Linked DNA regions of Homo sapiens: all the other regions are linked to region 1. The links come from fine-mapping of genetic effects on gene expression. A gene starts in region 1. Each other region holds a variant in brackets. All regions are shown on one strand. Distances are between the middles of the regions. Region 1 holds the start of CTBP2 (C-terminal binding protein 2). Region 2 overlaps CTBP2 (C-terminal binding protein 2). Region 3 overlaps CTBP2 (C-terminal binding protein 2).

Evidence for each region.
Region 2: its variant is fine-mapped to the expression of CTBP2 in tibial nerve (GTEx, PIP 0.91).
Region 3: its variant is fine-mapped to the expression of CTBP2 in anterior cingulate cortex (GTEx, PIP 0.98).

Annotation. Positions count from the first base shown.
Region 1 is chr10:125,159,507-125,162,261 of GRCh38, forward strand. CTBP2 (C-terminal binding protein 2) reads right to left here and starts at 1,057. Exons shown (of 11, transcript NM_001329.4): 1 at 813-1,057. RefSeq lists an enhancer at 1,828-2,437.
Region 2 is chr10:125,048,538-125,051,292 of GRCh38, forward strand. The region is part of intron 2 of CTBP2 (C-terminal binding protein 2); the gene reads right to left. Among named protein-coding and RNA genes, the nearest start is that of MIR4296, 17 kb to the left of the region's middle. RefSeq lists an enhancer at 1-36. The variant T/A (reference allele first, on the strand shown) is at 1,427.
Region 3 is chr10:124,993,307-124,996,061 of GRCh38, forward strand. CTBP2 (C-terminal binding protein 2) reads right to left here. Exons shown (of 11, transcript NM_001329.4): 7 at 1,163-1,377; 8 at 549-679; 9 at 1-23. Among named protein-coding and RNA genes, the nearest start is that of MIR4296, 38 kb to the right of the region's middle. The variant A/G (reference allele first, on the strand shown) is at 1,610.

The sequences.
Region 1 (2,755 bases):
AGCGGCAGCAGATGTGGCCCGGCTGCCCGGAGGAGCCAACAATGCGGGGCCGGCAAAACAAAAGGGTTCCACTTCGCCTCCTTTCCCGTCTTTCACTTGCGCTCCCGGGGAGCCGCGCGGGATCCCCCGCCGGCAGGGGCAGCGCCCCTGGGGACCGAGAGCCGCTCACGCCCCGACTTCCCCACGGAACCCCTCTTCTCCGCGCCCCCCCCACCCTCGCCTCGTAGGCGCAAGGCCCGCCGCACCCCGGCGCGCTCGGACTCCTGTTCCCCGGAGATCCGGCCGTATTGTCCCCGCGGCGCGTCGCGCGCTCGGCCTGGGTCGCCGGCGGCCCCCGGGCGCGCACCCACCGGGCTCAGGGAGCAGGAGCCGGGGGCGCCCAGGGAACCGTCGCCGAGACGCCGCCGCCGCCGCCGCCGCTGCCCTCCGGACGCCGCCGCGCTCGGGGTTTCTTTTTTTTTTTTTTTCAACCCTGATGGGAAGGAAGGTGACCGCCTACTTCGCATTCATCAACTCTCATCACAACAACAAAAATCCTGGCGCAAACGGCGGCCAGCGGGCGCAATCGGTGGCGGGGGCGGGCGGGGACCCCCGAGCCAGCGTCCACCCCCGGGCGCCGAGGGGGGACACGAGGCCGGGGGCACGGACCAAAGATGTCCTCGGATGCCGGCTCCGCGTCCTTCGCCCTCTTCCTCCTCCTCCTCCTCCTCCCTGAGTGGCGCAGTGAGGCGCGGGCGCGGCGCCCCCAGCCCGCGGCCGCAGGTGAGGCGGGGGCGGCGGCGGCCCCAGCCCTCCCCCGGGGCCCCCCTTACCTCGTCCCGGACGGTCGGCGTCCACGGCGAAAGGCGCCCACCCTGGAGGCGGCGGCGGCGGCGTCTCCCGCCCCTCCCACCCCACCCGGCGGCGGTGGCGGTGGCGGCGGCTGTGCGGCCCCCCCTCAGCGCGGCATGGCTCCCGGTTCGGTCCCTCGCTCCTCGGGCCGCCGCCGGCTCCTCCGGGCCGCTCCCGAGCCACCTTAAAATGACACACGCACACAGGGACACACACACAAAAACTTAATCTCTCCAGCTCCCCGCCCCTCCCCCTCCCGCCCTCCCCACCCTCCCTCCGCTCCCCTCCCCTCCCCACCCTACCCCTCCCTTCCCTTCCACCTCCTCCCCTCGCCGCCGAGCCTCTTCCTACTTCCCCACCCACCCCACCCCCTTCCTCCGCCCACCCGGTTCCCAATTCCCCCCGCGTCCCGGCCCCGCGCCCTCCCGCCCGCCGAGAGGGGGCTGCGCTGGGGGTCCCCGGCCCGGGCCCGCCCCGCGCCGCGCTCACCCCCGAGAGGATGCTAATTCCAACTTGGATCGGGGGAGGGAACGTCCTGGATGCCGAGCGCCTCCCGGCTATTTGCTCTTCTTTATTTGTTTTCTCCTCCGGGGAAGGAGAAGGAAAACGGAGAGAAAAGGAAAGGAAAGAAGCGGCGCTGGCCGCAGCTCCCGGTACCCGCTGGCTGCGCAGGAGCTAGGCGGGAGGCGAGGTGAGGGTCGCCGCTCGCTCACTCCTCGCTCCTGTTTTTGGGGGGGGGGGGCAAAGGCGGGGTCTCTTTTTGCAAACCAATGACACAACCCCACATGGGCCGGCCTCGCCCCCTTCAGATACTCCTCACTACAAATCGGCTCTCTCGGGGGATTAGTGGCTCCGCGAAAGTGCACACAAGCGCGGCGGGCGGGAGGGCCAGGGGCCGGGCGCGGCGGGCACTCCCTAGCCCGGCCCCGCCCGGGAGGCCCTCGGGAGGCGCGGGGGCCTCGGTGGCAGGGGCCGAGGTCCTGTCGCGGTGGCTCGGGGTCCGCTGCTCCCCTGGCCCTTCATCCTCCTCCGCCCCTTCCACGTGGGGTACCGGGCAGCCGGCCACGTGGGGGAACGCGAGCCCCGGGTGGCCCCGGTCCCATGGGGCCCCGCCCAGCCAGCGGCGCCAACCAGCCCCCTTCCCGGCCCCCGGGCTCCAACTTCCTCCTGGTGCCCCGCACCGGCCGCTTCTGCCTTCTCAGGCCCGCGGGGTCAGGCGCGGGCCGGCCACAGGGGGCACTTGCGCTCCCCAAATCCAGATCCGGGAGACCGTGCCGGAGAGGCGGCGACCGCTGTGGGTGCGCAGGGAAGGGCCCTCTGTGCTGCAAGTTGCAGCAGTGCTGTGCCCTAAAAGAAGCAAAACATTCTTACACATTGAAAAAAAAAAAAAAGGTTCCCTCTTGCTGCCTGGATCTCGCCGGGGCATTTGAGAAGCCCTGTGTTGGGTCGGAGCCCCGGGTCTCGAGGAGGGAGGCGCGCTGCGGCGTGGGGGCCCGCGACTCGGGGTCCTGGGCTTGCGCGGCGGCCCGGAGCCCACGCCGTCCTGACGTCTCAAGGTTGGAGTCTGCACAGCGAGCCTGGGAATCCAGGCCCAGCGGCCGCTCGCGGCCCAACGAGCACCTGGGCTAAATTCCCCGCCCGTGACCCGCGACGTCCGAGCGCCGTCTCCGGAAGGGAGCTGGTGGCCGTGGAGTGTGGGGTCTTCTCCCTGCGCCCCAGGGCCCCCCAAACTCTTCTCACTACCCTGAGTTCGGCGTGCGTCCTCCAAGAATCCCTGGGTGGGCTGAACTGAGCCCTTAGGATCGATTTGTTTAAAAACCCTATTGAGATATTAGGAGCTGGATTGAGATGTCGAGCAGGAAAGGAGTGGGAGGGGTCTGAGGTCCCGCCTTTGGAGGCCGCAGGGACCGCCATTCCGCGAACC
Region 2 (2,755 bases), 110 kb before region 1:
CTCCCGAGACGCTAGCTGGGGGTCCCACTTTCACAGCGGAGTGACTGGAGGTACAGGCCAAGAAGGAGGGAGGCTCCCTGCCCAGGGTGTGGAGTCCCCGACCCCAGGGAGCCAGGGGCCACCCTGACAAATGATTTTTCCATTACGTCTGCTGACAGCAACCAGTTAGTGTTGAAAATTGGAAACAACTTGGCAGAGACGGAACACACACAGAGAGGACGGTGCTGGGGAGGGGCCGGCTGGGCTGCTCCGCAAATGCCCCTTAGGCTTTCCATTACAAATGACAGCCTCTGGAGCACTATGCACACCTGATCAACAGGCTCAATTTGACTCAACACCAGGATCAGTTTGCTGTGAGACAAGTATGATCTTAAGATATACAACTTTTTTTCCTGGTAGACACTAATTTAGAAAGGAAAGGAGATTTTTCCAACTTTCCCCAGGAATTGATTCTGGCCAGAATGCACATTAATGTGCTCTCTGGCCTCAATTTGCCCGCCTGACCACAGACACACACACACACACACACACACACACACACACACACACACACACGTCCACCTGACCACACACATACACACACAACACCCCTTTCACCAAGTTCTAAGATGCTGGCCACCTCTTCTCCACACTGGCAGGGTACCTGACAGTTTCTGGTTGGAGAAGAATGGGAGGGGCTGGTGTAGCCCACTAATGCCCCACTACGGGAGACAGATGTGCCTAATTCAGTCCCCACCGTCACAGGACACTCTTTCTTACCATCATTTCAAAGTCGCCACAGTTGTCACAGCAGCAGGATACCACTGAGTGATACAGCACATGCTTGGCCTGATTTGGCAGAGGATGCCTTTGGATAGACCCCACACACGTGCGGATCCTGGGGAGCCCCCACCTGAGCTCCGGTGCCACCTCCCCCAGGCAGCGCCTCTCCACCTTCTCTTCATGGCTCTGATGCCACGAATACCTCACAAGCTTGCTCCAAGTCACATTCAGTGGGACTTGCTTTCACTTTCCAGGACGAGGTTCCTCTGTACAACCCACTTCAGTGTGGAACCTTCAGCAAGGAATGAGGGCTACATGGTGGCCAGGGAGAGGTGGAGACCCGCAGGCATGGTCGAAGATGGTGGGAAAGGGGAGTTCAAGCTGGACGGGCAGAGATAAGCTATCAAAGCAAACGCTGGCTGGGCTGCCAAGTGTCCGGAGAGATTATCTCAAAAACAAGCAGGAACGGCTCCCTCCAAAGGGGCCCACCTGCTGAAGGAGTGGGGACCCAGCCTTCCAAGTTCCATGCCAGCCAAGTTATAGAGTCAAACCAAATCAAGACTCTTGAGCCACCCCGCTCCAACTCTTCTGCCCAGCCTGACGTGACCAGGCCAGTGTAGCCACCGCCCCAGTGCACAGCTCAGCTCCCCAAACCCCACGTCTG[T/A]GGGGCCAACTGTTTAGGACACCAGTAGTTTGGGCATGCACTGGGATAAAAGTGCTCCAGGCACCTGGGGTGGCCCATCCTTCATTTCAACTAAGGCATCACTCATCATGCAAAGGCTGGCATCCAGGAGAGCCAACTCAGACCTCAGGAGTGGAGGATTATGTTTGCTTTATGAGGGCAGATACTCTATGCCTGGGTCCTTACAAGTATACACATTCCATAATGCGTCTCTATCACCAAAAGCCGCTCTGCAGCATCATGGGGCACCGGTACCCTGTCTCCTGCGACAGGTCGTGGAAATGATATGTAGAAATCAGACATCCCTAACTCCAGAAAATCTCTAGATTCAAAGACACCGCTTCCCAGACCTTATCTTTTCAACCTGAGTCATAAAGAGAAAAATCTTAGTCTTATCCACAGTTATTTAACATGAAATAAAATAGCTTGCAGCTATTCATTTTGCTTAACACGGTTTTCACGTGGAAGACGGCTACGTAACGGAAACCCAGAGGGATGAAGGCTTTGTTTGGTATCCATGACTGCACCCAAAGGGAGAGCGGGCGTCTCGCAGAGTCTGATGGGGAGGAGGAGGGTGGGACACTCCCGTGTCACACAAATTCATCTTTGCCTATCAAATGCCGGGAAAAGGAAGGGTGGGGGTGCGGCTCACAAGAGTTCTTTTGTTTCTGTTATGGGGTGTCGCTGGGGTTCAGCTGTCTTCTTGAATCATTTCACCTGTTTCACAGTGGCTTCCAGTCCCGGTCTCCAGGTCTCTGACGAGTACACCACCCCATTTTAACACTCATCATAGCTCAGAATGTTCCAGGCTATAGCTAAAATATAAGTTAGTGGAAAGAGGTTGCTGGGGAGGAGTAGACAAGGCTCCTGATGAGAATCTTCTAGAGAACTGCAACCTTGTCATAATGAACTGGGGTCCTCACAGGCCTCCTGCACCAAAGTCCTCTGGAGAGGGAGACATCTGGATGAGGAGGGTGGATGGTGCCCATGAATACAGTCACCTATGTGGAGAATTACAGCTCATCGTGAGCTACCATCAGGGATCCTAATTTTACATGAAATCCCACTGGAGAATTCTTGACAAGGTAATGGCCATTTAAAAATCTGCTCTGAGACATTTTATGGGGATATTGTGCATGTTAGAGCCCAAGCCAGACAAATAAATGGGAAAAAAGGTCCGAGGACTCAGGATACCTGGATCCCAAGTTTATGTCCCCACCCCAGACACCATTCGAAAACGGTACATGGAGACCCTTAGGGAAAGGCAGGTCCCTGGAGGCCCACTCCTCATGTACTTCCTGCCATAGTCAT
Region 3 (2,755 bases), 170 kb before region 1:
CTTTCAACGGACCCTGAGCAAAGCTAGAAAAATGTAGAAAAAACAGAGTAAGCGGGAAATGTCGCATACGCTCCCTGCCCTCCTCAGCACAAGGGAGCTCTTGGCCATGTAGAAAAGTAGCTACATAGATAGCATGGATACAGGAACATCTGTGATGATATTTTATGAAGGCTGGGAATTTTTGAATGTAATTATCAAAGTTGTGTAAGAACCGTATAATTGGTAGATCAAAAAGCCCAATTCTATTGAAGGCTTGTCCTGCTGTAATCCAGGGCAGAGATGATGCCTGTCTGTCTGAAGACCAGAACCACTGCCACACCCCCACCAATTTTCTGCCTCTCCTTTCCCTGATGACCTCTGGGAAACTTCCAGCCCTTTTACAATTAGAATACAGCACAATCCTTAGAAGAACAGAGACTGTAAATGTCATCTCTGGAGTTTCCTGCCCAGGGACCTGTTTGGGAAAAGGGCCTCGAGTTCAAAGTGTGGGGGTCAGGTGTGGAGCTGGGCCCTGTGGGCTCCTGGTAGGCGGCTGGGGCAACACGCACCTGAAGGGCTCTGACTCATGCACGTCGAGGGCTGCCCCTCGTATCCTGCCCTCCTTGAGGGCTTGTGCTAAGGCTTTCTCGTCCACCAGGCCGCCACGGGCTGCGTTCACAAGGAATGCTCCCTGCCTCATCTGTGGAAGGAAAGAAAAGCCGGTTACAGGCACACTGGCATGGTGGAAGACTCTTGTACCAAGGTTTAAAGAAGAAAGCTGCAAGCTAGTTTTGTTGGTCTGGTGGTTTAATGTGTGTGCTGCAGTTTGAGGGAAGGGAGTGGGAAGTGTTGGTGACGGCTGGAAGCCAGGGCCGTTGCTGCTGATCCTGAGAGGAAGCAACACGGTGGAAAGGCTGGACTGTGCCGAGCTGCTGGCCTCTTTAAAGGTTCTGGGAAGCTTCTGAAGCTGGGTCCTGGCTAGCGCCTGTCCTTCTCTGCTTAGCCTGGCTCAGCCCGAGGAAGGGGCTTCACGTGGCTTGTCACTGGTTTGTTGCAGGGCCTCTTCCCTGCTCAACAGTGTATCCAGAAACCACCTCCGTTGCCCTCCGTGTCCCTCTTGTGCCCACAAGCAAGTGCTACCACCTTTCGACAGAAGCTTCCATGGCATCTATTTTCAAATTACCTGCTTTATGGTAAAGTCATTGATGAGGTGGTGGTTATGTTCGTTGAGATTGCAGTGCAAGGAGACGCAGTCGCTCTGATACAGCAAATCCTGCAGGGTGTAGACCCTCTGCACGCCCAGGGACCGCTCGATCCCATCCTGCAAGTAGGGGTCATAAAATATGACGCTGAATCCAAAGGCCTTGGCTCGAACTGCAACCGCCTGCCCCGTGCGACCTGTACAGAAACAGAGCGTCCAGGTGAGTGAGTCCACAGCCCGCGCCCCAGCGCTGCCACCTCCATTGCTTCTGAGCTGAGTCCGGGCTTGGCATCCCCGCTGGTAGCTGCTGCCAGAGAAACCGTGTGCCCAAAGCTTAGTGAGGCCTGAGGCGAGCACTGCCCGCGAGGGGCCACCATGGCCGGTGTAGGACAGGTGAGGACCGCAGTGCTTGCTGCTTATATTGGGTAC[A/G]GCAGGATTTTTGTTAAAAACAAAACAAAACCCTTCCTTGTTATTGACATTTTCAAACACAGAGTGTTCTGACAAGCCCACATGCCCCTCCCATCACCACCCGTGTCCTCCGTTCCCACCCCTCTCCCCACTTCTTGTGTGCACTGCAGGCTTCTTAACATGAGCTTTGTGTTTGAAAAACTTGCTCTCAATGTCACAGGGAGTAATGTCCTGCCTCCTCATTGCTGGGCTCGCTCCTGCAAAGGGTGACATGAGCACAATGGCTCCCTGCAGGCTGGCCCGAGTGCAGACTGGCCACATGCTACTGTGTTCTGGGCGGGAGGCAGGGCACATGACCATCAGACCTGGACCTGTCCCACTGGTGGGGCCTCGCGCCCATCTGCATTATGCAGCCTGGGCCTCCCGCCAGCTATGTCACAGGATGAGGAGGTGTCTCCCACTCCCCAACGGCTGTCATTTCATAAACCCATGGGGTCCCCCTCGATAGCACCTCCAGCTTCCCAGAGCAGTTTTCAGCATTTTGAAAACAAAATGGTTAGTGTTGATGCTCGACTGGTTCTCTTGGAGATCACAGAAGGAATCTTTAAAGCCATGGCTCCAAGGTGCAGGCAGGAGAAGGACAAAGATGCGCATTTCCGAGCAGGCAGCCTGTGTTCCAGGGGTACCTCAATGCTGGATGGCTCCTCCTGCAGCAGCTCCATCTAACCGATGGCCTGGCTAGGACAACTGCCGTAGTTTAGAACAAAGGTTGAATAAGGCCAGTCTGATCAGGGACAGCTGCAGGACAACTAGTATAGCAAGGCACGAACCATCACGCCTCTCCTCCTCAGTGTCACCCTTTACAGCAGGCAGGACTGGACGGTGGCAGGGACGGAGTGAGAGATGGCTCTCTGACGCACTGGCAACATGAAACTGAGGACCCCAGCATGCAACTGCTGGGAGCTCACACTTCACAGGACCCCCGCCTGCCTTCCCCCGTTCCTGCAGCCTCCATCCCCCTCATGGCGTCTGTGCACGAACATGCTTCAATCAGTGGGGCTCACACTCTGCAGATCCAGGGCCTGGAGGGCCTGTGGAAAAGCAGCCCAGAGCACCAAGCCCAGATTTGAACCGTGCCGACGGCTATTTCTTTGTTTTTTTTTTTTT